4 separate regions of the Homo sapiens genome follow, and all the other regions are linked to region 1. Evidence: fine-mapped expression QTL. A gene starts in region 1. Each other region holds a variant in brackets. All regions are shown on one strand. Distances are between the middles of the regions.

Region 1 (7,914 bases):
GGGCCTGCCGCCACATCCAGCTAACTTTTGTATTTTTAGTAGAGATGGGGTTTCACTGTGTTGGCCAGGCTGGTCTCGAACGCCTGACCTCAAGTGATCCGCCTGCCTTGGCCTCCCAAAGTGCTGGGATTACATGTGTGAGCCACCGTACCTGGCTCCCTCCCTCTCTCTTTCCTTCCTTTCTTTCCTTTCTTTCATTTTTCTTTTTTTTTTCTTTTTCTTTTTTTTTCCTGAGACAGTCTTACTCTGTTGCCCAGGCTGGAGTGCACTGGCACAATCCTAGCTCACTGCAGCGGCAACCTCCCAGGATCAAGTGATCGATCCTCCCACCCTAGCCTCCCAAAGTGCTGGGATTGCAGGCGTGAGCCACTGCGCCCAGCCCAAGCCCATCTTAGACCCCGCTTCTTATGACCCACAGACCCAAGTCGCACCCATCCCTGCGGCCCTGCCTTTCCCACAAGCTCCACCTCCGCGTGCCTGGCCCCTGACAAACCACCCTCAGGCCCCGCCCCCTGTAAGCCCCGCCAAGGGGCGTGGCCACTCACTGCACTCCTCCTCATCGCTGCCATCGCTGCAGTCCAAGTCCCTGTCGCAGCGCCAGGTGAGGGGCACGCATAAGCCACTGGTGCGGCACTGGAACTTGGTGGGTGGGCACGAGCCTGAGCTGGGGCCTGCGAGATGGATGCAAATGAAGCCTGGGAAGCTGGAGGCTGGACCTTTCTCCAAGAGCACAGTAGTCACTGGCTGTGATCCGCAGGAGACAGGCGAAGTCCCGGGATATAGGAACCACACTGGCGGCTGCTTGTTACTGAGCCCCTAGTACGAGTGGGGTTCAGAGTGTAGCAGTTCCTGGGCTCAAGAGCCCCACTGGGCAGGTGCTACTGCACTCCCCAGGTTACAGAGAAAGGAACCAAGAGGAGGCCATACAGCTGGTGGCAGAGGCTGGGTGCAGTGGCTCACGCCTGTAATCTCAGCACTTTGGCAGGCCGAGGCAGGTGGATCACTTGAGGTCACGAGTTCGAGACCAGCCTGGCCTACATGGAAACCCCGTCTCTGTTAAAAATACAAAAATTAGCCGGGCGTGGTAGTGCACGCCTGTAATGCCAGCTACTCGGGAGGCTGAAGCATGAGAATCGCTTAAACCTGGGAGATGGAGGTTGCAATGAACCGAAATCATACTGCTGCACTCCAGCCTGGGCGACAGAACGAGACTCCGTCACCACAAAAAAGAAAAAAAAAAGAGCTGGTAGCGGAGTTGGGCTTCGAACTCAGGTCTCGCTGATCCCAGAGTCTTCACCAGGCTCCTCATAGCGAGATGATCTGCCAGGGAGACCTCCAAACTCAGTGGTTAAAGAGACTGAGGGACGGGCCATTTTTCCACATGCCCTGGGTCAGGCTCCCGGGCTCAGGTCAGCAGGGAGGGTCTATCTCCTCTGCGTAGCAAAAGGGAAACTGAGGCAGTGGGTGGGAAACTGAGGCACTGGGTAGAAAATCTGCTCAGTCACCAAGTCCTGTTGCCCCGCCTCCTGAATTCCTCCCAGACCTATCACTCTCCCCATCCTAAATGTGTCAGCTCCTCACCAGAGCCCCAGGCCCCAGGCCCCAAGGTCCATTAGGACACCAGAGACTTGCCTTTCCCTCTCTCCTCCCTACACCCTGTGTTTTCCCCTCAATTTTCAGATCTCAGCTGATTTCCTGGGAGGGTTCTCATGTCCCTCTTGGAGACCTAGGAAGCACTGCCTCCCATGTCTAACAACTGTCCTTAAAGCCCTGGTCATGCCTGTCCACCCACAGACTGGACATTCTGTGGAGGTCAGGGCTGTGACCTGGCCGCCTAAACCCAGGGCAGTGCCTGATTATAAGTGGACACAGGTCACATAAGGGTCCAAGCTGGGTCCAGAGAAGATCCCGGCTGTCCTAGATTCTGAGCAGGGAAGCTCAGCTGCTTGCCGACCTGGAGGGGCACGGAGGGGCCCGCAACCTGGGCCAAGGGACAGAGGAAGGGAGTGGCCTTTACGGCTTCCTCCTGGGTGCGGCCAGGGGAGGTGGCAAATCCGCCACCCTGGCTTAGCTTCACTCTGCCAAGGCCTTTAACCTCTTCCACCTTTACCCACCAGCCATGAGCCTCCAACCCCCCACTCCCCACTGCCAGCCCCTCCTCGGCCTTCAGGCCTAATTGCACCTACTTGCCACAGGGTCCCTGAGCTCTATGGATCCCAGAAGAGCTGTGGACAAACCGGTGCCTGCTTCCTTCCCCGCCCCCGGGAGATCTGGCAGCCTCCAGGTGTGGCTCTCCACCCAGGCGCAGACTTCCACAGCCCTGACACCTCTGACCTCCCTTCGCTGGACTGCGGGAGTGTGTATCCCTCTGCAAAGTGGACAGTAGAGCACAGCAGTCCCCGCCTCATAGGGTGTAAGCCTGACAGGAGTTACAGTGACCAGTGACTTTCTCTCCTGGCCTCAGTTTCCTCACCTGTAAACGGGGTATGCTGGGAATCCCTACCTCAACATCCTGAGAAAAAAGAGACTGTGTATAGAGTTTTGTCCTGTAATCCCAGCACTTTGGGAGGCTGAGGCGGACAGAACACTTGAGGTCAGGAGTTCGAGACCAGTCTGGCCAACATGGTGAAACCCCATCTCTACTAAAAATACAAAAATTAGCCGGGCATGGTGACGGTGCCTGTAGTCCCAAGCTACTCGGGAGGCTGAGGCATGAGAATTGCTTAAACCCGGGAGGCGGAGGGTGCAGTGAGCCAACATTGCACTGCACTCCAGCCAGGGCGACAGAGGGAGACTCAAAAAAAAAAAAACAAAAACTTTTGTACTTGGTTAACGTGAACGCTGCCTCCTTAAAAAAAAACAAACAAAAAAAAACCCAGGAACATTTAACGTGAATGTCAGGGACTTTGGGATGAGTCCAGGGACCTAGAAGTGCGGAATGCACAAAGGAGCTGGGAAAGTGTGTGAGCCTGAGCCCAGGGCTGCAAGTTGGGAGTGCCTGAGTGCACAGGGAGGCCACTCCAACCCTCCAGCTGCCTCTAGGGGTATCAGAGAGGGAGCCCGTCCCCACTGGCCACCAATACCTCTTAGGCCAGGGCGAACACGTCCACGGGGGTATATTCAACTTGTGACCCCAGTCTCTGCGAGAGCCTGCAGTAGCATGGGGGGGAGAGACCTCGCGTTCTCTAAGGATGGAGGACAAAGGAGGAGAGACTGGGAGGGCAGGGACGGTTGCGGAACGGTCACAAGGCCTGGGCGCGAGGGTTTGGAAGGCAAAGGTGCGAGAGGCACCAGGTGACCCGTCCTGCGTGATTAGCGGTCGGACAATCTGAGCCTGCTAAGAGCTTTCCTGACCACGCTGGTATGAAGGGCGGCTTGGAGGTGACAATGGGGGACGACAGGGCACAGCAGGTGTGGAGACGGTGTGCAGGGCCGGAGCAAAACCGTTAAAGGCAGGTGGAGACACCCTCCTCCCCTCCCCCAGCATGGGGTCTTCCTAGCACCAGTGCGCGCCTTCCCACAAGCGATGAAGTCCAAGTCCACGTGCTGGGGGAGTGTCATGAACTGACGTGCGGTGCAGCCAGTGACTAGGCGTTGTCGGTGCGCGGCGGCGGGGCGAAGCCTCGCGAGGGGTGGGAGCCCGCGCTGCGGGGCGTCACTCACCTGCGGCCTGGGCAGAGGTCGGGGTGGAAAGCGGGCTCGCGGCGGCCTCCAGGCCTAGTCCGAGGCCGAGCAGCAGCAGCAGCGCCAGGCCCAGAGCCCCTGTTCGCCACGCTCCAACCTGCGCCATCCAACCGCCGCTCATGCTGTCCCCACAGCGGCGCCGGCCACGCGCTGTCCAGACCGCTCTCTTATCCCTGCGCACGCGCACGCGCGGGGTTGGGGCGGGGCCCAAGCCCCTGAGTTCTGCGGCGCCCGCGGCTACGCGTACCGTAAATGTCAGAATAGCAGGGAAAAGAGAATTAGAGGCCCGTCCCCACTTTCCCCAGTGACCAGATCAGTTGAAAGGTATGGAGCCCGCTTGAAGTTAGAAACTTCTGGGGATGGGAAGGAATTTGTTGGTGTTCATTTGCATTATTTCCCGTTCCAAATGAGGACTGCTGCAAATGTTACTGCCTCGTGATCTTCTTTAATATGGCAGCCACGCCCCTCAGGCACTCCGCATTTCCTCCCTCATCCCACTGCTTTTGTGGCGCCGACAGGTAATTTATTTTATTTACTTATTCTGGTTTGTTGTCCGAGTCCCCATAGAATGCTAGCTACTGGAGGGCAGGGATCTTCTGTTGCTCACTGCTTTATTCTCAGGATCTGACACATAGTGCTTGACTCATAGTAGGCTCTTAGTAAACATTTGGTGAGTAAATGAATAAATGAAACGTCCATTCTCGGAGTCGGGTTGCTTGGGGGGGAAAAAGGAAAGGAAATCAATTAATTAATTAAATTTAATAATAAAGGCCGGGCGCGGTGGGTCACGTGTGTGATCCCAGCATTTTGGGAAGCAGAGGCGGGCAGATCGCTTGAGCCCAGGAGTTCGAGATCAGCCTGGGCAACACAGCAAGTCCCCGCCCGCCTCAAGAAAAAAGAAAATTAGCTGGGCATGGTGGCTCTAATTTGTAGTCCCAGCTACTCAGGAGGCTGAGGTGGGAGAATCACTTGGGGCTGCACTCCAGCGTGGGTGACAGTGAGACCCCATTTGTTAGAAAAGTTGGCCGGCGCGCTGGCTCACGCCTGTTAACCCCAGCACTTTGGGAGGCCGAGGCAGGCGGATCACGAGGTCAGGAGTTCTAAACCAGCCTGGCCAACATAGTAAAACTCCCGTCTCTACCAAAAATACAAAAATTAGCCGGGTGTGGTAACATGCTCCTGTAGTCCCAGCTACTAGGGAGGCTGAGATGGGAGAATCGCTTGAACCCGGGAGGCGGAGGTTGCAGTGCGCCGAGACCACATCATTGAACTCCAGCCTGGGTGACAGAGTGAGACTCTGTCTCAAAAAAAAAAAAAAGTTGTGGTCATAAAACTTGGTTCAGATGCCGTCAGCGGCATGCCTTGCCTAGGGTCTTGCCCTCCTTGTGGCCTCTGCACACCCTGCCTAGTCTTTCCTTCCCTCCTGACCTTTCTGAATCTGATTCATCCTTTTGCCCCAAGCAGAATCCCACCTTCTCCAGGAAGGTGTTAGCCTTTGTAGGACCCACTCTGGGACACTGGTACCTGCTGCCTGTAGCCGTGGCCTTTCCCCTTCCAGAGGGCAGGGCGGTCTCAGCACCCTCTTGGTCCACAGCTGATCTTTTTTAGCTGCTGAAGGGTCTGGGGCTGTGCCCTGGGGAAGCCATGACACTCCCCTGCGTAGGGTCACTGGGTGGCTCCTGCAGCCAGACTTGGACACCCTCCCTTTGCAGATTTCTGTCTCCTCCCCAGGAACCAGCTGCCTTCCTTCTGGGGCGAATTCATTCTTATCCCACAGCCCCAGCATAATGGGATCTGGCTCAGGGAGGCCTTTCCTGATCTGCCCTAGGTTTGCCTTCCCTGTGAGCAGCCCTTACTGTCCTCTGCCTTCCCCGTTGAGCTGCAGGGTGACCATGGTCAAGCAGGAGCCTCAGTGGGAAGGTGCTGAGGAAGGTTCATGTGAGAAGTGGCTGTGGGAGCCCTCAAGAGATGGAAGTTAGGCCAGGCGCGGTGGCTCACGCCTGTAATCCCAACACTTCGGGAGGCAGAGGTGGGCGGATCACTTGAGGTCAGGAGTTTGAGACCAGCCTGGCCAACATGGCGAAACCCCGTCTCTACTAAAAATACAAAAATTAGCTGGGCTTGTGGCAGGCGCCTGTAATCCCAGCTACTCGGGAGGCTGAGGCAAGAGAATCACTTGAACCCAGGAGGCAGAGGTTATAGTGAGCCGTGATCGCGCCATTGTACTCTAGCCTGGGCAACAAGAGCGAAACTCTGTCTCAAAAAAAAAAAAGAAGTGAGAAGTCTGTGGCTGGCCTACTGAGTGTCCGCACATACACCCCTTACCCCACCTGACTGGTCTTCACAATCAATGCTCCCCAACAGCCAGCGGTCCTGGGAGTCCAACCTCCCAGAAGGATCACCCACTCCCACCACTCTCAAGGTCAGAGCCTGGCCTTTGGGGGAAAGGGCAGTGCTGTCTCCAGGGCCTCTGCACCCAGGGACAGTGTCTGTCCCACCCCTGGAGTGCCAACAGAGTTGGGAGACTCAGCACTGACTTCACCCCAAAATCCAAGTAAGCTGGGTATTGCTTAAAATCAGGGGCCAGGCGTGGTGGCTCACACCTGTAATCCCAACACTTTGGGAGGCCAAGGCGGGCGGATCACCTGAGGTCAGGAATTTGAGACCAGCCTGGCCATCTCTACAAAAAAAAAAAAAAATTAGCGGGTATGGTGGTGCACACCCGTAGTCCCAGCTACTCGGGAGGCTGAGGCAGAATTGCTTGAGCCCAGGAGGCAGAGGTTGCAGTGACCTGAGATCGTGCCGTTGCGTTCCAGCCTGGGTGACAAGCGCGAAAACTCTGGCTCCTGCAGCCAGATTTCTATCTCCTCCCCAGGAACCAGCTGCCTTCCTTCTGGAGCTAACTCATTCTCATCCCACAGCCCCAGCATAATGGTTTCTGGCTCAGGGAGGCCTTTCCTGATCTGCCCTAGGTCTGCCTTCCCTGTAAGCAGCCCTCACTGTCCTTTGCCTTCCCCGTTGAGCTACAGGGTGACCAAGGTCAAGCAGAGGCCTCAGTGGGAAGGTCTAAAAAATAAAAATAAAATCAGGCCAGGTGTGGTGGCTCATGCCTGTAATCCCAGCACTTTGGGAGGTCAAGGCAGGAGGATCGCTTGAGGCCAGGAGTTCAAGATCAGCCTGGGAAACATGGTGAGACTCTGTCTCTATTTTTTTATTTTTTAAAGTAAAACTAGAAGTGATACCTGAGCTCTACGTATTTGTCATAAATTAGGTCACATTCTCCCTGGAGGAAATCCAAGGAGGCAAAGTAGTCGGGTGGCCGTGAGGGTGCAGTGTCACAGGTAAGGCTGGTCCGAGGACAGCTCCCACCTCTTTATGGGAGGAGCTGGAGTCACCGCCTTCTTCTCAGTGGCAGCTACAGCAGAGCTGGAGGAGGGAAAGACTTCAGTGAGGGTTTCCAAAGAACAGTGTGGAAAGATCTGAGGGAGCCCACACCTGCCCCGGGACAAACACACCCACAGGGACTTTCTGGACCTGCAGGACAGACAGCAGGGTGTTCCAGAATGCCAACCCCTCCAACGCAGCCCCTCAGAGGATCAGCCAACGCCAGGTGGGAGCTAGCAAGCCTCCTCTCTCCCCTGAGCCCTGTATGAACCCCCTGCTGTGGCCCCCAGGCCCAGAACCCACTGTGGAGAGCTGGGCTCCTCCCTTCCCACTTTTGGTCTCCAGCGTACACAAGGCCCCCACCCCCATTCCTGCTGCCCCTCAAAACAGGATGCTGGCAAAAGGGCCAAGCGATCAGGTGACAATGGCCTCCAGCTATTCCTGCCTCAGACTGGGCAAGAACTGCATGGCAGGCGCTACTGTGTGGGCGCAGAGCCAGGAAGATGGGGCACCGCCCTCAGGAAGACTCAGGCTGGTGGGGCTGAGAATCCATGCGCAAATGGCAACTGCAAAACGCATCTCTGGCCCAGAGCTGGCCAAGAGGGAGCCCCCAGGAGACCCTGTGCCGGCAAGTCCAGGACGAGCACCCTCCCCTCTCACCCCACCCACCTGAGCCTGTGGAGCTCACACACTTCACAGCCTAAGCAAGAAAGGAAGCAGGAGGGTGGGGTGATGGAGGAGGCGCCCCAGGGGTGGAGGCACAGGACCTCCCAGGAGCCTCAAGGAAATGGAAAAGGCAGAAGTGGCCTCCCTGGGAAATGCACACATCTCTGGGGGCATGGCAAG
Region 2 (7,914 bases), 23 kb before region 1:
TGGGATCTTTGGCTCACTACAACCTCTGCCTCCTGTTCTCAAGTATTTCTCGTGCCTCAGCCTCCTGAGTAGCTGGGATTCAAGTGTGCACCACCACACCGAGCTAATTTTTTGTATTTTTAGTAGAGGCAGGCTCTCCCTATGTTGCCCAGGCTGGTTTCAAACTGCTGGCCTTGTGCAATCCACCCACCTCAGCCTCCTGAAGTTCTGGGATGACAAGTGTGAGCCACCACACCTGGCCTTAATCACCCCTTTAAAGACCCTGTATCCGGCCTGGCATGGTGGCTCACGCCTGTAATCCCAGCACTTTGGGAGGCCAAGGTGGGTGGATCACCTGAGGTCAAGAGTTCGAGACTAGCCTGGCCAACATAGTGAAACTCTGTCTCTACTAAAAATACAAAAATTAGCTGGGCGTGGTGGTGAGCGCCTGTAATCCCAGCTACTTGGGAGGCTGAGGCAGGAAAATGACTTGAACCCGGGAGGCGGAGGTTGCAGTGAGCCGAGATCGCGCCACTGTACTCCAGCCTGGTGGCAGAGCAAGACTCTGTCTCAAAAAAAAAAAAAAAGAAATTAACCGCTGCTCACAGCTGTGCTAGCTTACAGGAACAAAGGCCAAGTGCCAATAACCACAAATGAGCCACAAGATGAGAGCTGACCTCAGCAGTGCTCCATAGGCCTGATTCCTCACTCCACTGGCATAATAAAATCTCCACAGCCAGGGTGCACTGGCTCCCAGCTGTCATCCAAGCACTTTGGGAGGGTGAGAAAGGCGGCTGGTCTCAAACTCCTGACTTCAAGTGATCACCCACACCTCAGCCTCCCAAAGTGCTGAGATTACAGGCGTAAGCCACCACACCCGGACTATAACATCCATTCTTTTAGGGAGCCCCAGAACCTGTGAAATTAATCTCTGCTCTGGCCGGGCATGGTGGCTCACACCTGTAATCCCAGCACTTTGGGAGGCTGAGGCGGGTGGATCACGAGGTCAGGACATCGAGACCAGCCTGGCCAACATGGTGAAACCTGGTGTCTACTAAAGATACAAAAAAGTAGCCAGGCATGGTGGTGTGTGCCTGTAATCCTAGCTATTTAGGAGGCTGAGGCAGGAGAAATGCTTGAACCTGGGAGGCAGAGGTTGCAGTGAGCCGAGATCACACCATTGCACTCCAGCCTGGGCAACAGGGCGACACTCTGTCTCAAAAAAAAAGAAATTAACCCCTGCTCACAGCTGTGCTAGTTTACAGGCATGAAGGCCGGATGCCATTAACCACAACTGAGCCACAAGATGAGAGCTGACCTCAGCAGTGCTCCATCTGCCTGAATCCTCACTCCATGGGCAGAGTAAAATCTCCACAGCCAGGGCACAATGGCTCCAAGCTGTCATCCCAGCATTTTGGGAGTGTGAGGAGGGAGGATTGCTTAAGTCAGAGAGTTCAAGACCACCCTGGGCAACATGGTAAGACCCTCTCTTGGCCTGTAATCCCAGCACTTCAGGAGGCCAAGGTGGGCAGATCACGAGGTCAGGAGTTTGAGACCACCCTGGCCAACATGGTGAAACCCTGTCTCTACTAAAAATACAAAAAAAAAAAAAATTAGCCGGGTGTGGTGGCACGCGCCTGTTACTACTCAGGAGGCTGAGGCAGGAGAATTGCTTGAACCCGAGAGTCAGAAGTTGCAGTGAGCTGAGATTGTGCCACTGCACTCCAGCCTGAGCGACACAGCGAGACTCAGTCTCAGAAAAAAAAAAAAAAGACCCTCTCTCTACAAAAAATAATGTAAAAATTAGCCGGGCGTGGTGATGCATGCCTGTAGTCCCACCTACTTGGGAAGCTGAGGCAGGAGGATTGCTTGAGCTCAGAAGGTCGAGGCTGCAGTGAGCTACGATCGCACCACTGTACTTCAGCCTGAGCAACAGAGTGAGGTGCTGTTTCAAAAAAAAAAAAAAAAAAAAGCTGGGATTATATGGGTCACACCTATAATCCCAGCTACTCAGGAGGCTAAGGCAGGAGAATTGCTTGAACCTGGGAGGCGGAGGTGGCAGTGAGCTGAGATCGCCCCACTGCACTCCAGCCTGGGTGACTGATCGAGACTCTGTCTCAAAAAAAGAAAAACCAAAAAAAAAAAGTCTTCAGTGGGGAGAGGTGCACTTTGCTAAGCACATATAATGCCAGGTACAAAAGAAAAGAAAGGCTGAACACTTCAGTGCCCCCTAGAAAGCCCCACCTCTTTCCAGGAATCCCCACCCCCAGTCTGCATCTACATGCCCTAGGAAACTTTAAAACTCCCCTCATCACACCTGCAGGGAGTAGGCACTTTGAGCAGGAGTTCCTCCCTTTCTCCATTCATTGATTGACGAATAAAGTTTCTATCTTGCTTTACTGAACCTGGTCTTGTTCTGTTGGTGCAAATGGCAACCCGCAGAGAAAGGACTCATTAGTCTCAAACAATCCCCTTAAGAGTGGGTAACAGCGGACACCATGGCTCACACCTGTGATCCCAGTGCTTTGGGAGGCTAGGGTGGGAGGATCACTTGAGCTGAGGAGTTAAGAGACCAGCCTGGGCAACGTAGAAAGACCTCATCTCTAAAAAAAAAAAAAAAAAAAAAAAAAAGGCAGAGGGGAGGGGGGCGGGCGTGGTGTCTCACGCCTGTAACCCCTGCACTTTGGGAGGCCAAGGCAGGCAAATCACCTGAGGTCGGGAGTTTGAGACCAGCCTGACCAACATGGAGAAGCCCCGTCTCTACTAAAAATACAAAAAATTAGCCAGGCATGATGGCACATGCCTATAATCCCAGCTACTCGGGAGGCTGAGGCAGGAGAATCACTTGAACCCAGGAGGCAAAGTTTGCCGAGATGGAGCCATTGCACTCCAGCCTGGGCAACAAGAGGGAAACTCCACCAAAAAAAAAAAAAAAAAAAAAAAAAAAAAAAAAAAAAAGGCGAGGGGGAGGAGGGAGACTTTAAAAAAAGAAAAATAAAAAAAGTTTTTTTTGGCCAGGCACTGTGGCTCACGCCTGTAATCCCAGTACTTTGGAAGGCCGAGGTGAGCGGATTGCCTGAGGTCAGGAGTTCGAGACCAGTCTGGCCAACATGGTGAAACCCCGTGTCTACTACAAATAGAAAACAAATTCGCCTGATGTGTTAGTGCAGGCCTGTAGTCCCAGGTACTCAGGAGGCTGAGACGGGAGAATCGCTTGAACCCGGGAG[G/A]CAGAGGTTGCAGTGAGCCGAGATTGCACCACTGCACTCCAGCCAGGTAGACAGAGCAAGGCTCCGTCTCAAAAATAAATAAATAAATAAATAAATAAATAAATAATGTTTTTGAGATAGTCTCAAAAGGGTGTTCAGGCCCTTATGTGTTCCCCCCACTCACACACACACACACACACACACACACACACACACACACACACAGGATCTGGGCTGACCTGGACTCCACTGAATCCACAGAATACAGCATCGGCAACATTGACCCAGCAGTCTCTCTGCTTTGTGTGTTGGGGAACCCCAAGTCACCGTGGCAGGAGTGTGGCCACCTTGCTCAGGAGTCCACGTGGAGAGGCCACATGGAGAGGTCAGCTATCCCAGACATGACAGACCTTCTGGATGGGACATCCAGCCAGCCCGGCCCCCAGATGATGGCAGCCACTGTCACATGGAACAAATGAACCCCCAGTGAGCCTGGTCAGCCCAGAGCCAGGAGAGAGGATGCGACAACAGGTGTTTGGAGCCAGTGGGCATGGGGCGGTTTGCTCCACTGAGAACAAGAATGCATGACAGTCAGGACGGTCCAGAGCCTAGAGGTCCACTTAGGTGGCATGTGGCACCCACACCAGCCTCACAGCCGGGCACACATATCCCTGACATACCCTGTTGTCCGTCGAGGCTGACTCGTGACAGAGAAAACGTTAGAGAAAAAACCTGGCTGGATGCAGTGGCTCACACCTGTAATCCCAACGCTGTGGGGGGCCGAGGTGGGAGAATTCCTTGAGATCAGGTGTTGGAGGCCAGCCTGGGCAACATAGACCAACCCTGACTTTACAAAAATAAAAAATTAGCTGGGTGTGATACATGTGACTGTAATCCCAAAACTCGGGAGACTGAGGCAGGAGGATTTTTCTTTTTTTTGAGATGGAGTCTTGCTCTTGTCACCCAGGCTGGAGTGCAATGGCAGGATCTTGGCTCTCTGCAACCTCTGCCTCCCAGGTTCAAGCAATTCTCTTGCCTCAGCCTCCCAAGTAGCTGGGATTACAGGCGCCTGCCACCACACCCGGCTAATATTTCTATTTTTAGTAGAGATGTGGTTTCACCATGTTGGCCAGGCTGGTCTCGAACTCCTCACCTCAGGTGATCCGCCCACCTTGGCCTCCCAAAGTGCTGGGATTACAGGCATGAGCCACCGTGCCCAGCCCAGGCAGATCTCTTGATCCCAGTTCAAGGCTGCAGTGAGCTGTGATCACACTACTGCACTCCAACCTGGGCAACAGGTCCATCTGAGTCCATCTCTAACGGTCCCAGGGAGGTCACTCCCCTGCAAGGAGGCTACTGTGGCCCCCAACATCCCATTCAGAGATTTAGAAGCTGAGGATAAGGGAGGAACTTTGCCCTGTCACCCAGAAGTCAGGGTGTGAATTAACTTTACCGGTCACCAACCTTTTTGGCAGCAGGGACTGGTTTCATGGAAGACAATTTTTCCACGGACCAGGGGTGGGGATGGTTTCAGGATGATTCAAGTACATTACTTGTTTTTGTTTGTTTTTTGAGACAGTCTTGCTGTGACACGCAGGCTGGAATGCAGTGGCCTGATCACGGCTCACTGCAGCCTGGACCTCCCAGGCTCAAGCAATCCTCCTACTTCAGCCTCCCAAGTAGCTGAGACTACAAGTGCACACCACCACCCACAGCTAGTTAAAAAAAAATGTATAGGCCAGGCACAGTGGTTCACGCCTGTAATCCCAGCACTTTAGGAGGCCGAGGCGGGCGGATCACCTGAGGTCGGGAGTTCAAGACCAGCCTGACCAACATGGAGAAACCCCTTATCTACTAAAAATACAAAATTAGCCAGGTGGGGTGGCACATGCCTGTAATCCCAGCAACAAGAACGAAACTCTGTCTCAAAAAAAAAAAAAAAAAAAAAATTTGCAGAGATCCCTATGATGCCCAGGATAAATAATAAAACCTTTTTTTTCTTTTTTGAGACAGAGTCTCACTCTGTCACCCAGGCTGCAGTACAATGGCGTGATCTCAGCTCACTGCAATTTCCACCTCCCAGGTTCAAGCGATTCTCCTGTCTCAGCCTCCCGAGTAGCTGGGATTACAGACGCCTGCCACCACACCCAACCAATTTTTTGTATTTTTGGTAGAGACAGGGTTTCACCATATTGGCCAGGCTGGGGGGGAGGGAAAAAAAAGAGGGAAAGGGGGAGAATATCCAATTTCTTTTATTTTTAAATTTTTTATTTTAGAGACAGGGTTTTGCTCTGTTGCCCAGGCTGGAATGCAGTGGTGTGATCACAGATCACTGCAGCTTCCAACACTTGGGCTCAAGCAATCCTCCTGCCTCAGGCTTCCCAGTAGCTAGGATGACAGGTGCACACAACCACACCCAGCTAATTTTTTTATTTTTGGTAGAGATTAGGCCTTGCTATGTTGTCCAGGATGATCTGAATCTCCTAGCCTCAAACCATCCTCCCACCTCGGCCTCCCAAGCACTAGGATTACATGTGTGAGTCACCAAAATGAGTACAGGGCTTCCTTTTGGGGTCATGAAAATATTCTGGCAGTAGATAGATATGGTTGCACTGCACTGTGAATGTACCAAATGCCACTGAATCATTCACTTCACAATGGTTAATTTTATGTTATATGAATTTCACTTTGATAAAAACAGATGTGGCCGGGCACAATGGCTCATGCCTGTAATCCCAGCACTTGAGAGGCCAAGGCCAGTCGATCACCTGAGGTCAGGAGTTCCAGACCAGCCTAACCAATATGGTGAAACCCCATCTCGAATCTCTACTAAAAATACAAAAATTAGCCAGGCATGGTAGCATGCACCTGTTGTCCCAGCTACAGGAGGCTGAGACAGAAGAATTGCTTGAACCTGGGAGGTGGAGGTTGCAGTGAGCCAAGATCACACCACTGCACTCCAGCACTCCAGGTTGGATGACCGAGCACGACTCCATCTCAAAAAAAAAAAAAAAAAAAAAAAAAAAAAAAAAAAAAAAGAGGAAGCCAGGCACTGTGGCTAAATTCTATCATCCCAGCCCTTTGGGAGGCCAAGGCAGGTGGATGACTTGAGGCTAGGAGCTTGAGACCAGCCTGGGCAACATAATGAGACCCCATCTCACAAACAAAAAAGATTTCTTGGCCAGGAATGGTGGCTGACGCCTGTAACCCCAGCACTTTGAGAGTCTGAGGCAGGTGGATCACAAGGTCAGGAGTTCAAGACCAGCCTAGCAAACATAGTGAAAACCCCATCTCTACTAAAGATACAAAAAATTAGCTGGGCGTGGTGGCACGTGCCTGTAATGCCAGCTACTCGGGAGGCTAAGGCAGGAGAATCACTCTAACCCAGGAGGCAGAAGTTGCAGTGAGCTGAGATCACAGCACCACTGCACTCCAGCCTAGGCAACAGAGCGAGACTCTGTCTCAAAAACAAAAAACAAGAACAAAAACAAACAACAGTTCTAGAGATGGGTGGTGGTGATGAGTGCACAACATTGTAAAAATACTGAATACCTTTGAAGCCCACCTTAAAATTGTTAAAGTGGTCAATTTTATGTTATTTTTAGGTATAATACTTACGTACTTTTTGTATTTTTTTCTATTATGTATTGATATGTATATTTAACAGTAGAAAAAAAATGATGGTCACTCGATCGGAAACAGAAAAGGTTAAAGCAAAAGTAAAATGCATGAAAACCAGGGAGAACTGCCAGATAAGCACATGGTCAGTGACCCTGGATTAGCCCGAGGCTGACTGGGTGTTGGACATGGGGAACGACCACCACCTAGGGGCAACTTGCCATCTGCCGCTATGTTCTTTCTGGGACTTGGAAAAACATGCATTACTAGGAACTTCCCCTACTGTTATTCCCTGTTTCCCCCGCCACCCCGCCCGAGACAGAGTCTTACTCTGTCTCCTAAGCCGGAGTGCAATGGGCGATCTCGGCTCACTGCAACACCCGCTTCCCGGGTCCAAGCGATCCTCCTGTCTCAGCCTCCTGAGAAGCTGGGATTATAGGCACAGGCCACCATGCCTGGCTAATGTTTGTATTTTTAGTAAAGACGGGATTTCGCCACGTTGGTCAGGCTGGTCTCGAGCTCCTGACCTCAAGTGATCCGACAGCCTTGGCCTCCCAAAGTGCTGGGATTACAGACGTCAGCCACCGCACCCGGCCTGTTATTTCCTCTTAATACTGACATCATCCTCCTGTTTACCAATCTTTGTCACAGACCAGGTGGCATCTCTGAGAAAACAGAAATCAGCAGGAGAGACCTTCCAGAGCCACTGCCCTCCATCAACCTGCAGACCTGCATCAGGACCCAGACGCAGTGGCTCTTCCTCTTGCCCTGTGAGAATCAATTTGCCCTGGATGCAGCAAAACCACGCCCCCTTCTCCACCAACTCCTCCACCCCTTCATGGGCCTAGACAAGCACCTACCTCAACAACCTCCCCGCACCCCTGGAGCATTCCTATCAGCACACAAATAGGTTGATGCATTTTTCCCTCCTTTGTTTTTATTATTAAGGTGAAACTCACACGGCATAAAATTAACCTTTGTTTTTTTTCCTTTTTTTTTTTTTGAGACTGAGTCTCGCTGTATTGCCCAGGCTGGAGTGCAGTGGCGCGATCTCGGCTCACTGCAACCTCTGCCTCCCAGGTTCAAGCGATTCTCCTGCCTCAGCCTCTCA
Region 3 (7,914 bases), 34 kb after region 1:
GAGGAGGGCGGATCATGAGGTCAGGAGATCGAGACCATCCTGGTTAACACGGTGAAACCCCATCTCTACTAAAAATATAAAAAAGTAGCCGGGCGTGGTGGCAGGCGCCTGTAGTCCCAGCTACTCGGGAGGCTGAGGCAGGAGAATGGCGTGAACCCGGGAGGCGGAGCTTGCAGTGAGCTGAGGTGGCGCCACTGCACTTCAGCCTGGCAACAGAGCGAGATTCCGTCTCAAAAAAAAAAAAAAAAAAAAAAAAAAGGATGTAATTGTGCATCCAAATTTTTACCAAGGTCAGTTGTGAAACTCTTGCAGGAATGATGGGGAATTGCGGGCTGGATGCACCAAAGATCCAAATCAACAAATCAACGGATACTTGTCTCCCTGGAATGTCGCTAGCGGAGTGTCACAGGCTTGATCCTTGGCTTGTAAGAGTTTGTAATGCAAACACAAAACACCTGGGTTGTCAGAGCTGTGACTATTCATGGGGCTGCCTGGGAAAGTGACTGTTTGGATGACATGATGGAGGCTGTAAGAAAGTGAGGAAGATTGGGCCACATATAATAATGTGATATTTAACAAGGACAAATATTGAATCCAGAACTTTGGTTCAAAAAGCACAGGGTGAAATCTCAGCACTCTGGGAAGCCAAAGCAGAAGGATCGCTTGAGCCTAGGAGTCAAGACCCACCTGCGCAACATAGCGAGACCCTATCTCTTTTTGTTTTTTTTTTTTTTTGAGACAGAATTTCCCTCTTGTTGCCCAGGCTAGAGTGCAGTGGCACAATCTTGGCTCACTGCAACCTCTGCCTCCTGGGTTCAAGTGATTCTCCTGCCTCAGCCTCCTGAGTAGCTGGGATTACAGCCACTGCTACTATACCTGGCTAATTTTTTGTATTTTTAGTAGAGATAGGGTTTCATCATGTTGGCCAGGCTGGTCTCGAACTCCTGACCTCAGGTGATCCACCCACCTCGGCATCCCAAAGTGCTGGGATTACAGGCATGAGCCAAGGTGCCTGGCCACTATCTCTTTTGTTTGTTTGTTTTTAAATAGTGAAACCACCAAGCACAGTGGCTCACAAGCCATTGCTCTCCAGCCTGGGCAACAAGAGCGAAGCTCTGTCTCTAAATAAATAAATAAAATAGCGAAACCCCATCTCTACAAAAAACACAAAAATTAGCTGGATGTGTTGGCATGCACCTGTAGTCCCAGCTACTCAAGAAGCTGAGGCAGGAGTATCTCTTGAGTCCAGGAGATGCAGGCTGCAGTGAGTTATGATCATGCCACTGCATTCCAGCCTGGTTGACAGAGCAAGACCTTGTCTCAAAAAAAAAAAAAAAAAAAAAGAAAAGAAAAGAAAAGAAAAGCACAGGAACATGGAGTGGGAAAGATGGGCTTTGGAAAGCCCACATGGAAAACCTTCAGGGAGGGGAAAGTGCCTACGGTGTGCCCTTCCTGATTAAATGTCATCGCCATAGCTGGACACAATGGTGCATGCCTGTAGTCCCAGCTACTCAGGAGGCTGAGGCAGGAGAATCGCTTGAACCTGGGAGGCAGAGGTTGCAGTGAGCTGAGATCATGCCACTGCACTCCAGCCTGGGGGACAGAGCCAGACTCCGTCTCAAAAAAAAAAAACCATATATATATATATATACACACACACACACACACACACACACACAGCCCCCATACAACACTTTGCATACTGCAAAGTAGTATTATTATTCATATTTTACAGATGGAGAAACTGAGGCACAGAACAATTAAATCAGTTGCCTGTGGGAAGCACCCTCAGATTGGGCTCTGCCCATCTGCGGAACCCTTGTCAGCAGGTCCCTGCCACAGCTTCTGACTGCCCTTTACCTGTCCAGTCCTCCACTGACAGGCATCTGCCAAACCCACTTCATCCTCTCCCTGGGCCACGGCCCGTCTGTGCTAACCACATGGCAACACTCCCAGCCACCCCTTCTGGCTTCTCGAATCCCTGGGACCACCTGTGTGCCTGATGCTATGAAGCACTGAGCACCCACCAGCCCTCCTGACTCATTACCCTACTCCACCGCTGGGGAAACCGTAACTCCATTTCCCACTTCTGTCTGGCCGAGGTCCCTGACCTCTCCCTTCCCACTCCAAGGCCAGGCAGGGGGCCTCTTCCAGTCCCCAAGCAGCTGTTTCCCGTCCCTTCACACCAGCTGCAAGGGGTGGATCAACAGGCCAGCGGGTCATCGCAGAGGACAGCCAATGCCGTTCATCACTTGTTTTCAGGAAATTGCCAGGGAAGAACTGGGTTGTGGAAAAAGTCCAGATCAAGGGTTGGGGGGTCTGGGTCTACTTCTCACACAGCTGGCCGTATGACGCAATGGGGTCAGCGTCCTCCTCCGGTGACCTGGTCACACCCAAATCCCAGGCCCTGGGATCTCAGAAGACAGCTGTGGGCCATTCCTAAGACCTAAACTAGCTGAAGCAGTTGGATCCAGAGGCTGGGCTAAGAAAGGAATGGATCCCTCCAGAATGTCAAATAATAACAACGCTTTTGATATTTACTATGGGCCAGCCTCTAGTCTAAGGAATTTATGGATATTTACTTTTTTTTTTTTTTTTTTTAGAGGCAATGTCTCGCTCACTCTGTCACCCAGGCTGGAGTCAGTGGCTCGATCATAGCTCACTGTGGCCTTGAACCCCTGAGCTCAAGTGATCCGCCTCAGCCTCACAAATAGCTGAGACTACAGGAATGGACCTCTACACCTGGCTAATTCAGGCTAATATTTTAAATTTTTTGGTTTTTTGTTTTAGATGGAGTCATGCTCTGTCGCCCAGGCTGGAGTGCAGTGGCACAATCTCAGCTCACTGCAATCTCCGCCTCCCGGGTTCAAGTGATTCTCCTGCCTCAGCCTCCCAAGCAGCTGGGATTACAGGTGTGCACCACCATGCCTGGCTAATTTTTGTATTTTTAGTAGAGACGGAGTTTCACCATGTTGGCCAGGCTGGTCTCAAACCAGGCGTGAGCCGTGCCCGGCCTAATTTTATTTTTTGTAGATACAGGTGTCTTGCTATATTGCCCAGGCTGGCCTCCAACTCCTGGGCTCAAGCAATCTTCCCAGTTCAGCCTCCCAGAGTGCTGGGATTACAAGCATGAGCTACTGCACCTGACCTTGACTTATTTTTTAAAATCCTAGCTAAATCCACTGAGGTTGGATTTCCTATGATCATTGTCCCTTCCCCTATTGTACAGATGGAGAAACTGAGACACAGAACAGTTTAGTGTCCTGCCTGGGTCCTGTCATAAACAGGCAGAGGCAGGTTTTAAACCCAGGCAGGTCTTCCAGAGTCCTTGCTTTGGCCACTACACTTGAATGCTTTCTTTTATTTTTATTTTTGAGACGGAGTCTCTGTCACCCAGGCTGGAGTGCAGTGGCAGGATCTCGGCTCACTGCAACCTCTGAGCCCAGGGTTCAAGCGACTCTCCTGCCTCAGCATCCTGAGTAGCTGGGATTACAGGCACTTGCCACCACAGCTGGCTAATTTTTGAATTTTTAGTAGAGACGGGTTTCATCATGTTGGTCAGTCTGGTCTCAAACTCCTGACCTCAAGAGATCAGCCCTACTTGACCTCCCAAAGTGCTGGGATAACAGGCATGAACCACCAAGGAGCCTCAGGGGGCTTGTCCCTCCCAGCCTACACCTGTGTCAGACTCTGATTGGGGGCGGAGGTGCCCACCACCTCTGCGGCTTCAGGGGCTGGGGCCTCACTAAGTGGGGCGTTTAGCTGCCTTCCCTCTCCTCCGCTCCCTGCCCTGACTGTCACAGCTAGATCCGGATTCTGTGCCTGAGACCCCCTCATTAGGCCGTCAGAGCCGACGCCACACGCCCCCTCTCCCGCCCCAGGGACTATTTTGGGACGCAGAGCTGTGATCACCAAACCGGAGTGGTGGGGGCCACGGCAGGCCA[G/C]TGAGGATCCCAGTCCTGGGGAGAGGGCGCCTTCCAGGAGGCCCTGAGTACTGGCAGCCCCTGATGTCTGCTGGGACTCTCAGACTCTTGAGGTGGGTGGGTGGGGGACCGGTGGCGGCAGGAAGGTGGGTGTTAAAGTCATCATCACCCGTCCACCCCCAGGTCGTCCTAGCCGCACAGAGACAGAGCAGTTTCCTACAGGAAGCGCCGCCGGGCGGTTCCATCCGCTACCCATTGTCTGCGGGTCCGGGGGCCGTGCGTCCCTCCCCAAAACACCATTTCCGTGACACGCTCCCACACCCAGCCCAGCGCGAGGGGCTGGCTGGGGTCCCCAGGCCGTCCCGGGAAAGGGTCCCAGGGCCGGTTGTGGCATTAGGGAGCGAACGAGCCCCGCAGTGAGCTCCCGAAGGGCGAGAGGGGGGCAAGCCCACGCCTCCAGAGCCCCCCACTCTGCTCGCTACCCACCTGGGACTTCCAATGTGGGAGGGGTCCCGGCCAGAGGACACGACGCCCGCCCCGTCGCAGCGGGCAGAGCCCTCAGTGGGGCTGGAAACGCAGCGCAGCGCCGGGTCCCGGTGCGTCCCCGAATCCACCCACCCAGGGGTCCCCCATCCGTGTCCCCGCAAGCTGGCAATTTACCTGAAGCCGCAGCCCCAGCCGCGCCCGCACCCGAGCCCGCCCCCTCGAAGTCCGGGGACTGATTATCAAGGCCTTCGCCCTAACTGACGGCCACGCCAGCCAACCAGCACCCGAGGCTCTCCAAGCCGCCCAGTGGGACGGTGGGGTGGGACAGGCAGGCGGGGCCTGGAATGTAGGGGTGGTGACTGAGGGCGGGCCCTGGAGTGACGGTCGCCGAGCGCTGGCTGGCGGCATTTCTGCACCAGCAGAGGTCAAGTCTCTGCCCAGCGCCGGGCCAAGGAGCTTGGATTTGATCCACAGGCACGAGGGAGCCATGGGAGAACTATGAGTAGAAGAGTAACCCGGTGGGATTTCTATAACTGGCACTTATTTCGCAGTGCCTGGGTGAAGTATCAGGTCCCGGATCTTCCCCACCGCAGGGCCTCTGCACATGCTGTTCCACCTACCTGAAATGCTTTCCCTTGCACCTGTACACGTAGGTACTTTTTGAGGCTCCCCTACTGTTTTTTGTTTTGTTTTGTTTTTGTTTTTTGAGACGGAGTCCCAGGCTGGAGTGCAGTGACACTCACTGCAACCTCCGCCTCCTGGGTTCAAGCAATTCTCCTGCCTCAGCCTCCCGAGTAGCTGGGATTACAGACACACACCACCACGTCCAGCTAATATTTGTATTTTTAGTAGAGATGGGGTTTCACCATGTTGGCCGGGCTGGTCTGGAACTCCTGACCTCAAGTGATCCGCCCGCCTCAGCCTCCCAAAGTGTTGGGATTACAGGCGTGAGCCACCGCGCCCGGCCTTCCCTACTTTCTGAGGTTCAGCTTTTGTGTTGCTGCCCCCTAAATTCCTGACATAGCCCCTCCCCAGTTAGTATTTTTCTCATCACTCTATTGTATTAACCTAATAGCTACTTTTACTATCTGGAAAAAAAAAAAAAAGCAGACTCTGTTATTGGCAGGCGCAGTGACTCACGCCTGTAAATCCAGTATTTAGGGAGGCATAGATGGGAGGATAGCTTGAGCCAGGAGTTGAGACCAGCCTGGGCAACATAGCAAGACCTAGTTCTCAAAACAAAAGAAAACAACAAAACAAAAAGACAAAAACGAAACACTCAGTTATTTATTTGGTTTATTTTTTAATTTAATTTAATTTTTTTTTAGACAGAGTCTCGCTCTGTCCCAGGCTGGAGTGCAGTGGTGCGATCTTGGCTCACTGCAACCTCTGCCTCCTGGGGTTCAAGCGATTCTCCTGCCTCAGCCTTCTAAGTAGCTGGGATTACAGGCGCACACCACCACGCCCAGCTAATTTTTGTATTTTTAGTAGAGACAGGGTTTCACCATGTTGCCCAGGCTGGTCTCGAACTCCTGACCTCAGGTGATCCGCCCACCTCAGCCTCCCAAAGTGCTGGGATTACAGGCGTGAGCCACCATGCCTGGCTGGTTATTTATTGGTTTACCTGCTTGCCATCTCACTAAAGTGTCGGCACCAAGGCCAGGTGGGGTGGCTCATGCCTGTAATCCTAGCACCTCCTGAGGCTGAGGTGGGAGGATCTTTTGAGCCCAGCAGCTCAAGACCAGCCTGGGCAACAGAGTGAGACTCTGTCTCTAAATTAAGTGTCAGCACCATGGGAACAGGAAACTGGTTTTGATAACTGCTTTATCCAGCGACCCTAGTACACAGTAGATGCTTAATAAATGTTTGCTGAAATAATGTTTTCTTTTTCTTTTTTGAGTCAGGGTCTCATTCTGTTGCCCAGGGTAGAGTGCTGTGGCACAATATCTCAGCTCACTACAAACTCCGCCTCCCAGGTTAAAGAGATCCTCCTGCCTCAGCCTCCCAAGTAGCTGGGATTACAAGTGTGTGCTACGCCTAGCTAATTTTTTTTATTTTTAGTAGAGACGGGCTTTTACTACTTTGCCCAGGCTGGTCTTCAACTCCTTGGCTCAAGCAATCCACCTGCCTTGGCCTCACAAAGTGCTGGGATCACAGGCATAAGCCACAGCACCTGGCCAGAATATAGTAATATTTTAAAATGTATTTTAACATCTGATACTTTTTAAAAAAAAACAAAATTCCTGGGCTATTTTAATTGGTTGATTCTTTCAGTTAAAACTGTGGAATTCTGTCGCGTTTCCCCACAGAAACTCCATTGGAATTTTCTTCTTTGTTCCTTTGAGACAAAGTTTACTCTGTTGCCGATGCTGGAGTTCTGTGGCAAGACCTATGGCTCACTGCAGCCTTGAACTCCCAGACTCAAGCAATCCTCCCACCTCAACCTCCCGAGTAGCTGGGACTACAGGCATGTGCTACCACGTCCAGCAGGTTTCTTATTTTTGTAAGGACAGGGTCTCTCTATGTTGCCCAGGCTGGTCGCAAATTCCTGGGTTCAAGTGATTCTCCTGCCTCAGCCTCCCTAAATAGTGGCATAACAGGCATGAGCCGCTGCACTTGGCCTCCATTGGAATGTTTAAAATATATGTGTGTGTGTGTGTGTGTATATATATATATATATATATATATATATATATATAATTTTTTTTTTTTTTTGAGACGGAGTCTTGCTCTGTCACCCAGGCTGGAGTACAGTGGTGTGATCTCCACTCACTGCAAGATCCGCCTCCCGGGTTCATGCCATTCTCCTGTCTCAGCCTCCCGAATAGCTGGGACTATAGGCACCCACCACCACACCTGGCTGTTTTTGTATTTTTAGTAGAGACGGGGTTTCACCGTGTTAGCCAGGATGGTCTTGATCTCCTGACCTCGTGATCTGCCTGCCTCAGCCTCCCAAAGTGCTGGGATTACAGGCGTGAGCCACCGCACCCAGCCCTAAAATATTTTTATTGTGGCCGGGTGCGGTGGCTCACGCCTGTAATCCCAGCACTTTGGGAGGCCAGGGCAGGCAGATCACCTGATATCGGGAGTTCGAGACCAGCCTGACCAACATGGAGAAACTCCGTCTCTACTAAAAACACAAAATTATCCCAGTGTAGTGGTGCATGCCTGTAATCACAGCTACTTGGGAGGCTGAGGCAGGAGAATCACTTGAACCTGGGAGGCAGAGGTTGCAGTGAGCCGAGAGTGAGCCATTGCATTCCAGCCTGGGCAACGAGAGTGAAACTCTGTCTCAAAAAAAAAAAAAAAAAAAAAAAAATATATATATATATATATATATATATATATATATATATATAGTTGTAAAATAAAGCGTCCATAGATGCACACACACAGCAGATTCAAGAAACCACATAAAACAAATGTATACTCTTTCCCTAAGTGGCCTGAGGTAATCTGGGAAAATGGTTCGCTATTTACTTGACCCAGAGAACCCCACAAAATC
Region 4 (7,914 bases), 62 kb after region 1:
GGAGAAGATGTCCTGGCCTGGAGTCCCTGAGGGCTCACCAGTCTCTGGGTCAAAGCTGATGGGAGCACCTCCTTCCTCAGCCCTGACCTGGCCCAGCCAGGCCACCCAACCCTTCTCCTCTGCAAGCCAGTGGGCTGTCCCTGAAGCCCTGCTGATCACTGATTGGAACAGAGGTGGAGAAAGAGGTCTTGAGGGACTTGAGCTGCAGGGGTGCTGGAGAAGGTAGAAATGGGGTTCGGGGTGCCATCCTGAAGGTTAGAACCTTCTAGGGGAGGGTGTCATGGAGGAGGGGGTGCCAGGTAGTAGTGTTTGTAGATTTGGGCCCTCCACAATGTCTTGGGGTATGTGGGAATTAGGGCTGGGAACCCCCAGCTCCCAGACCAGAAACACTCTTGTATCTTACAAATCCAATGCTCCAGGTCCCTGACCCCTCTTCCTCCTTCCTCTCTTGTTCTCCTCCTCCCTCCCCGCCCCCGCCGGCCCCCTCCCCACCGCAGAAAGTGGGCTTTTGCTGCCACCACAAGTTGTAGGTGCTTTATTCCCAAATCTCCGTTCATCTCGAACCACAGCATGTCCACGTGTGTCCGATGCAGACTCGCGGTTCTCTAAGTTCACGGCCCCACACGGTTTCTCTGTGGTCCTCATCCTTCCCTGCATCTGTGGCTGTCCACAGCCAACTGGGTGAAAGTTTGGATCCCCCTCTCACACCCTAGGGTCAGTGGCAGGCTTCCAGCACTGTAGACCTGAGGGTTCTCTCCTCCCCAAGCTCCCGCTCCTTCCCACCTCCGTGCTGCCCGCCCCCAACCCCGCCAGGCTAGCATCTCAGCGTGGTCAGGGTCCTGTCCACCCTCCCAAAGCCACCATCCCAGGATGAGGGGCTTCTGGAGGGTGACGGGGGAAGGCACAAGTCCTGGCTGGGAAATGCGGTGGAAGGGGGCAGGGGTTCTGTGGGTTCGGGACTCCCAGACTCTTGGCTCAGGCCCGCCAAGTAGGAGAAAGTTCAGAGCTGGGAAGGCGAACAGCTGGCATTCATGGAAGCCACACTGGTGGTTTGGCCGCGTGCCCATCCTTACTGGATGGGAGGAAAGTAGGGGAAAGGGGAGATGCCTGAGGGGCCGGAAAGCGTCTTCCTGGTCACTCTGGGCCCGCCCCCACCCCCACCGTGCAGACTCATTTCGACCTTTCCCCTACTTTTCCGGCTGGGCTGGGGGCGGTTCCTCCCAGTCTGGAGCGTCTGAGCCTCCAGACGTGCTCAACGCCATCCTCCCCTCCTCCCTCCCTCTTTCTTTCCTCAACCCTGCCTCCTCTCCCTCTAGGAGCTGGGACCCCAGGCAGAGCCTCTGAGATGCTCCTGCTCAGCACAGTTCTTCCCGTTCTGGACCTGCTGCCTCATTCATTCATTCATTCATTCATTTGTCAAGACTGTTTTGTTTGCTTTTTGAGACGGAGTCTCGCTCTGTTGTCCAGGCTGGAGTGCAGTGGCGCAATCTCAGCTCACTGCAACCTCTGCCTCCCACTGGGTTCAAGTGATTCTCCTGCCTCAGCCTCTCAAGTAGATGGGATTATAGGCGCCTACCGCCACCACGCCCAGCTAATTTTTATTCATTTATCAAGTCTTTTTTTTTTTTGAGACAGAGTCTCACTCTGTCACCCAGGTTGGAGTGCAATGGTTCAACCTCAGCTGACTGCAACCTCTGCCTCCCGGGTTCAAGTGATTCTCCTGCCTCTGCCTCCTAAGGAGCTGGGATTACTGGCGTCCACCATCACACCCAGCTAATCTTTGTATGTTTTACTAGAGATGGGGTTTGGCCATGTTGACCAGGCTGGTCTCAAACTCCTGACCGATCCGCCCGCCTCCCAAAGTGCTGGATTACAGGCATGAACCACTGCGCCCGGCCCATTCCTCAAGTCTTTATTGAGCAGCTGCTATGCGCTGGGGCCTGCGTGGATGCTGGTGCCAGGCTGTGGGCAGAGCTGCTCCTTGTCCCCAGCCTCATGGAGCCTCCATTGAGTCAGAGGAGAGACCATTAGATGACCTCAGTGTCCAGGAGTGGGAAGTCCTTGCTCAATTCCCATTTGGGGTGTTCTGGCCTGGTCTGGGGGTGAGGCAAGGCAGGGTGTCCTTCCAGAAGCTGGGACCCAGAGAGAGAAGTGAGGAAAGAGAGTCCCGCCGGGCGCAGTGGTTCACACCTGTAATCCCAGCACTTTGGGAGGCCAAGGCTGGCGGATCACGAGGTCAGGAGATCGAGACCAGTCTGGCCAACATGGTGAAACCCCCGTCTCTACAAATAATGCAAAAACTAGTCGGGCGTGGTGGCACATGCCTGTAGTCCCAGCTGCTCCGGAGGCTGCGGCAGAATTGCTTGAACCTGGGAGGCGGAGGTTGCAGTGAGCCAAGATTGCGCCACTGCACTCCAGCCTGGCGACAGAGCGAGACTCCGTATCAAAAAACAAAACAAAAAAAGAGAGTCCCAGGCAGGGGGAACAGCATGTGCAAAGTCCCTGTGGCAGGACGGTGTGTGGTACAAGGGTGGGAAGAAAGCCTGTGTGCCAGAGAGGGTGTGGGTACAGCATGGCAGGAGGAGGATGGGCACGGGGGCTGGTCCTCCAGGTGCCTTGTGGACCATGCTGAGGAAGGACATAGGGAGCCATGGAAGAGGTTAGGCAGATGGCAGAGAGGTGGTCATGAGATAAGATTTGCCTTTTACTTCCCTGGTCATCCACTGTTAAGCCCCCAGATATGCCTGGCTCCTGAGACCCCCCCCAGGGGCTGCCCTCCTGTTTCAAGTCTCCACTTTATCTCCCTTCAGGGCTGCCCAGGGATTGCCAGGAGCTGTTCCAGGTTGGGGAGAGGCAGAGTGGACTATTTGAAATCCAGCCTCAGGGGTCTCCGCCATTTTTGGTGAACTGCAAGATGACCTCAGGTAGGGTGTGTTAGTCCACCAGGGGCCCCTCTCCCCATAGGCCCTGTTGTCTTTCTTTAAATTGAAAACAAAACAAAACAAAAAAATTAAAGGCAGGGTCTTGCTATGTTGCCCAAGCTGGTCTTTTTTTTTTTTTTTTTTTTTGAGATGGAGTTTTGCTCTTGGAGCTGGAGTGCAATGCCACGATCTCAGCTCACTGAAACCTCCGCCTCCCGGGTTCAAGCAATTCTCCAGCGTCAGCCTCCCCAGTAGCTGAGACTACAGGTGCGAGCAACCACACCCAGCTAATTTTTGTATTTTTAGTAGAGACTGGGTTTCACCATGTTGGTCTGGCTGGTCTCAAACTCCTGACCTCAAATGATTTGCCGACTTTGGCCTCCCAAAATGCTGGGATTATAGGCATTAGCCACTGCTCCTGGCCTCTTTTCTTTAAAATGCAGCCCTTGTCTGGGTGTAGTGGCTCATATCTGTAATCCCGACACTTTGGGAGGCCTATCATGAGGATCACTTGAGCCCAGAAGTTCGAGACCAGCCTGGACAACATAGTGAGAGCTCATCTTTACAAAAAATTTTGTAAAAGTAAAAAAAAAGGCCAAGTGCAGTGGCTCACACCTGTAATCCCAGCACTTTGGGAGGTTGAGGCAGACAGATCACGAGGTCAGGAGTTCGAGACCAGCCTGACCAACATGGTGAAACCCCGTCTCTACTAAAAATACAAAAATTAGCCGGGCA[T/A]GGTGGTGTGCACCTGTAATCCCAGCTACTCAGGTGGCTGAGGCAGGAGAATCTCTTGAACCTGGGAGGCAGAGGTTGCAGTGAGCTGAGATGACGCCACCGCACTCCAGCCTGGGCGACAGAGCGAGACTCCGTCCCCCCATCAAAAAAATAAAAAAGAGAAAATAAAATAAAATAAAATAAAATTCAGCCCTTGCTGGGCATGGTGGCACATGCCTGTAGTCCCAGCTACTCGGGAGGCCAAGGCAGGAGGGTCACTTCAGCCCAGGAGTTAAAGGCTGCCGTGAGCCGTGATCACACCTGTGAATAGCCACCGCACTCCAACCTGGGCAACACAACAAAACCTCGTTTCTAAAAAAAAACAAAGGCTGAGCACGGTGGCTTACACCTGAAATGCCAGCACTTTGGGAGGCTGAGGCGGGCAAATCACTTGAGGTCAGAAGTTCAAGACCAGCCTGGCCAACATGGTGAAACCCTATCTCTACCAACATAAACATTAGCCGGGCGTGCCTGTGATTCCAGCTGCTTGTGGGGCTGAAGCACAAGAATCGCTTGAGCCCCGAAGGCAGAGGTTGCAGTGAGCTGAGATTGCGGCACTGCGATCCAGCCTGGGCAACAGAGTGAGACTCCATCTCTAAAAAAAAAAAAAAAAAAAAAGAAAGCTTTTTTTTCCACTGAGAAGTCCTTTCCATTACAAGAGGTTACAACACGGGGTTTTACCCAGTTCAGCTGGCCCAGAGAGGCTTTGCAGATTTCCACTGCCTACTCCCTCCCACACTCAGTCCCTGCTGGGTTCTTGGGACAAAGATCTTCCCAAGGCCAGCCCATAATATTCCTCCCTCTGACCCACCCTCCTCGAGTCCTCCAGGGATGAGTGAGGGAGCTGCTGTCTTCCTGGGTTTGGAGGGGGTTTGGTGCTTGGCAGCCAGATGAGGGAGTGGGGTCGTCTGTGAAGAGGGACTTCCTGGTGACCTTGTACCTTTCTGGGCAGATGGAGGCTGGACAGTAATTCAGAGGCGCCACGATGGCTCAGTGGACTTCAACCGGCCCTGGGAAGCCTACAAGGCGGGGTTTGGGGATCCCCACGGTAGGTGTTTCTAGTGGGGACAGAGGCAGGGGAGGAAGAGGGACCCTCAGAAGTGGCCCTGCCTCATGGAGTGGCCTCTCCCACTCCAGGCGAGTTCTGGCTGGGTCTGGAGAAGGTGCATAGCATCACGGGGGACCGCAACAGCCGCCTGGCCGTGCAGCTGCGGGACTGGGATGGCAACGCCGAGTTGCTGCAGTTCTCCGTGCACCTGGGTGGCGAGGACACGGCCTATAGCCTGCAGCTCACTGCACCCGTGGCCGGCCAGCTGGGCGCCACCACCGTCCCACCCAGCGGCCTCTCCGTACCCTTCTCCACTTGGGACCAGGATCACGACCTCCGCAGGGACAAGAACTGCGCCAAGAGCCTCTCTGGTGAGCAGGCCCTGCCATGCCACACCCAGCCAGCAGCTTCCCTCCTTATCTTTCTGCTGCTCTGTCCTGCCTTCAACCCCACATTGCATCTGTTTCCTGCCCCCACCTCTTCCTTACATGCCGTGTGTGTGATTGGGCCACTAACTTAGCCTATCTGGCCTCAGTTTTCCCATCCTGAAAAGGGTCTTGACCGTCTTTACTTTTATTTACTTATGTGTTTGTTTATTTATTTATTTATGTATTTATTTTTTGAGACGGAGTCTCACTTTGTCACCCAGGCTGGAGTGCTTTGTGGCACGATCTTGGCTCACTGCAAGCTCCACCTCCTGAGTTCACACCATTCTCCTGCCTCAGCCTCCCGAGTAGCTGGGACTATAGGTGCCCACCACCACGCCTGGCTAATTTTTTTGTATTTTTAGTAGAGATGGGGTTTCACCGTGTTAGCCAGGATGGTCTCGATCTCCTGACCTCGTGATCTGCCTGCCTCAGCCTCCCAAAGTGCTGGGATTACAGGCGTGAGCCACCGCGCCCGGCCTACTTATTTATTTTTTGAGACAGAGTCCCGCTGTGTCTCCCAGGCTGGAGTGCAAGTGACGTGATCTTGGCTCACTGCAGCCTCCGCCTCCTGGGTTCAAGTGATTCTCCTGCCTCAGCCTCCTGAGTAGCTGGGATTACAGGTTCCCGCCACCATGCACAGATAATTGTTTTGTATTTTTAGTAGAGACGGGGTTTCACCATGTTGGCCAGGGTGGTCTTGAACTCCTGACCTCAAGTGATCTGCCCACCTCGGCCTCCCAAAGTGTTGGGATTACAGGCGTGAGCCACAATACCCGGCCACAAACATCTTTATAATGGTGCTCCACAGGATTCTTTTTTTTTTTTTTTTTTTGAAACAGGGTCTCACTCTGTTGCCTAAGCTGGAGTGCAGTGGTGCGATCTCGGCTCACTGCAACCTCCACCTCCCGGGTTCAAGCAATTCTCAAAAAAAAAAAAAAATTAGGCACGGTGGCTCACACTTGCAATCCCAGCACTTTGGGAGGCTGAAGCGAGTGGATCACTTGAGCCCAGGAGACCAATCTGAGCAACAGGGCGAAATCCTGTCTCAATTAAAAATACAAAAAACTAGCTGGGCATGGTGGTGCCTGCCTGTGTTCCCATCTACTTGGGAGGCTGAGTTGGGAGGATCTCTTGAGCCTAGGAGATAAGGCTGCAGTGAGCTGAGACTGCGCCACTGCACTCAAGCCTGGGTGACAGAGTGAGACCCCTGCCTCAAAAGAAAAAGAAAAAATGCAGGCATGGTGGCTCACACCTGTGGTCCCAGCTACTTGGGAGGCCCAGGTACAAGAATCACTTGAGCCCGTAAGGTTGACGCTGCATTGAGCCATCACCACACCACTGCACTCCAGCCTGGGCAATGGAGCCAGGCCCTGTCTCAAAAAAAATTGTTTTTAAACTTAAAAATAAGGCCGGGTGTGGGGGCTCACACCTGTAATCCCAGCACTTTGGGAGGCCGAGGTGGGTGGATCACCTGAGGTCAGGAGTTCAAAACTAGCCTGGCCAACATGGTGAAACCCTGTCTCTACTAAAAATACAAAAATTAGGCCAGGCGCAGTGGGTCATACCTGTAATCCCAGCACTTTGGGAGGCTGAGGAGGGTGGATCACATGAGGTAAGGAGTTTGAGACCAACCTGGCCAACATGGTGAAACCCCCTCACTACTAAAAATACAAAAACTAGCCAGGCGTGGTGGCGGGTGCCTGTAATCCCGGCTACTCAGGAGGCTGAGGCATGAGAATCCCTTGAACCTGGGAGGCAGAGGTGCAGTGAGCCGAGATTGTGCCACTGCACTCCAGCCTGGGAGATAGAGTGAGACTCAGTCTCAAAAAAAAAGACCAAAAATTAGCCAGGTGTGGTGGCAGGCGCCTGTAATCCCAGCTACTCGGGAGGCTGAGGGAGGAGAATCACTTAAACCTGAGAGACGGAGGTTGCAGTGAGCTGAGATCGCACCACTGCACTCCAGCCTGGGTGACAGAGTAAGACTCAATCTCAAAAAAAAAAAAGTCAAGTCCAAAGCCCAGCCTGGTCCCCAACCTGCCTCATCCTCAACCCTATCCCTATCTCCTTTCAGCCCCATCGGTGGCTCAAAGACCTGACCATGTTCCCTCTCCCCTGACCCCGGCAGGAGGCTGGTGGTTTGGCACCTGCAGCCATTCCAACCTCAACGGCCAGTACTTCCGCTCCATCCCACAGCAGCGGCAGAAGCTTAAGAAGGGAATCTTCTGGAAGACCTGGCGGGGCCGCTACTACCCGCTGCAGGCCACCACCATGTTGATCCAGCCCATGGCAGCAGAGGCAGCCTCCTAGCGTCCTGGCTGGGCCTGGTCCCAGGCCCACGAAAGACGGTGACTCTTGGCTCTGCCCGAGGATGTGGCCGTTCCCTGCCTGGGCAGGGGCTCCAAGGAGGGGCCATCTGGAAACTTGTGGACAGAGAAGAAGACCACGACTGGAGAAGCCCCCTTTCTGAGTGCAGGGGGGCTGCATGCGTTGCCTCCTGAGATCGAGGCTGCAGGATATGCTCAGACTCTAGAGGCGTGGACCAAGGGGCATGGAGCTTCACTCCTTGCTGGCCAGGGAGTTGGGGACTCAGAGGGACCACTTGGGGCCAGCCAGACTGGCCTCAATGGCGGACTCAGTCACATTGACTGACGGGGACCAGGGCTTGTGTGGGTCGAGAGCGCCCTCATGGTGCTGGTGCTGTTGTGTGTAGGTCCCCTGGGGACACAAGCAGGCGCCAATGGTA

What was found. PIP is the estimated chance that this variant, and not a neighbour inherited with it, causes the effect.
Region 2: its variant is fine-mapped to the expression of CD320 in NK cells (Gilchrist 2021, PIP 0.94).
Region 3: its variant is fine-mapped to the expression of CD320 in whole blood (TOPMed, PIP above 0.99).
Region 4: its variant is fine-mapped to the expression of CD320 in whole blood (INTERVAL, PIP above 0.99).

The regions. Positions count from the first base shown.
Region 1 is chr19:8,304,486-8,312,399 of GRCh38, forward strand. CD320 (CD320 molecule) reads right to left here and starts at 3,873. Exons shown (of 5, transcript NM_016579.4): 1 at 3,664-3,873; 2 at 546-671. The coding sequence starts at 3,805. It overlaps NDUFA7 (NADH:ubiquinone oxidoreductase subunit A7), which reads right to left. Exons shown (of 4, transcript NM_005001.5): 4 at 6,799-7,110. The coding sequence ends at 7,020. RefSeq lists enhancers at 2,636-3,376, 3,363-3,492, 3,377-4,116, 4,172-4,701, 7,456-7,914 and silencers at 3,573-3,662, 3,637-3,975.
Region 2 is chr19:8,281,440-8,289,353 of GRCh38, forward strand. No RefSeq gene overlaps it. Among named protein-coding and RNA genes, the nearest start is that of CD320, 23 kb to the right of the region's middle. The variant G/A (reference allele first, on the strand shown) is at 3,207.
Region 3 is chr19:8,338,642-8,346,555 of GRCh38, forward strand. It overlaps KANK3 (KN motif and ankyrin repeat domains 3), which reads right to left and starts at 4,621. Exons shown (of 11, transcript NM_198471.3): 1 at 4,584-4,621. It also overlaps the pseudogene LOC100129682. RefSeq lists enhancers at 1,629-2,129, 4,064-4,855. The variant G/C (reference allele first, on the strand shown) is at 3,945.
Region 4 is chr19:8,366,409-8,374,322 of GRCh38, forward strand. ANGPTL4 (angiopoietin like 4) reads left to right here. Exons shown (of 7, transcript NM_139314.3): 4 at 2,811-2,924; 5 at 4,648-4,743; 6 at 4,833-5,114; 7 at 7,297-7,914. The coding sequence ends at 7,478. Among named protein-coding and RNA genes, the nearest start is that of ANGPTL4, 6.2 kb to the left of the region's middle. The variant T/A (reference allele first, on the strand shown) is at 3,657.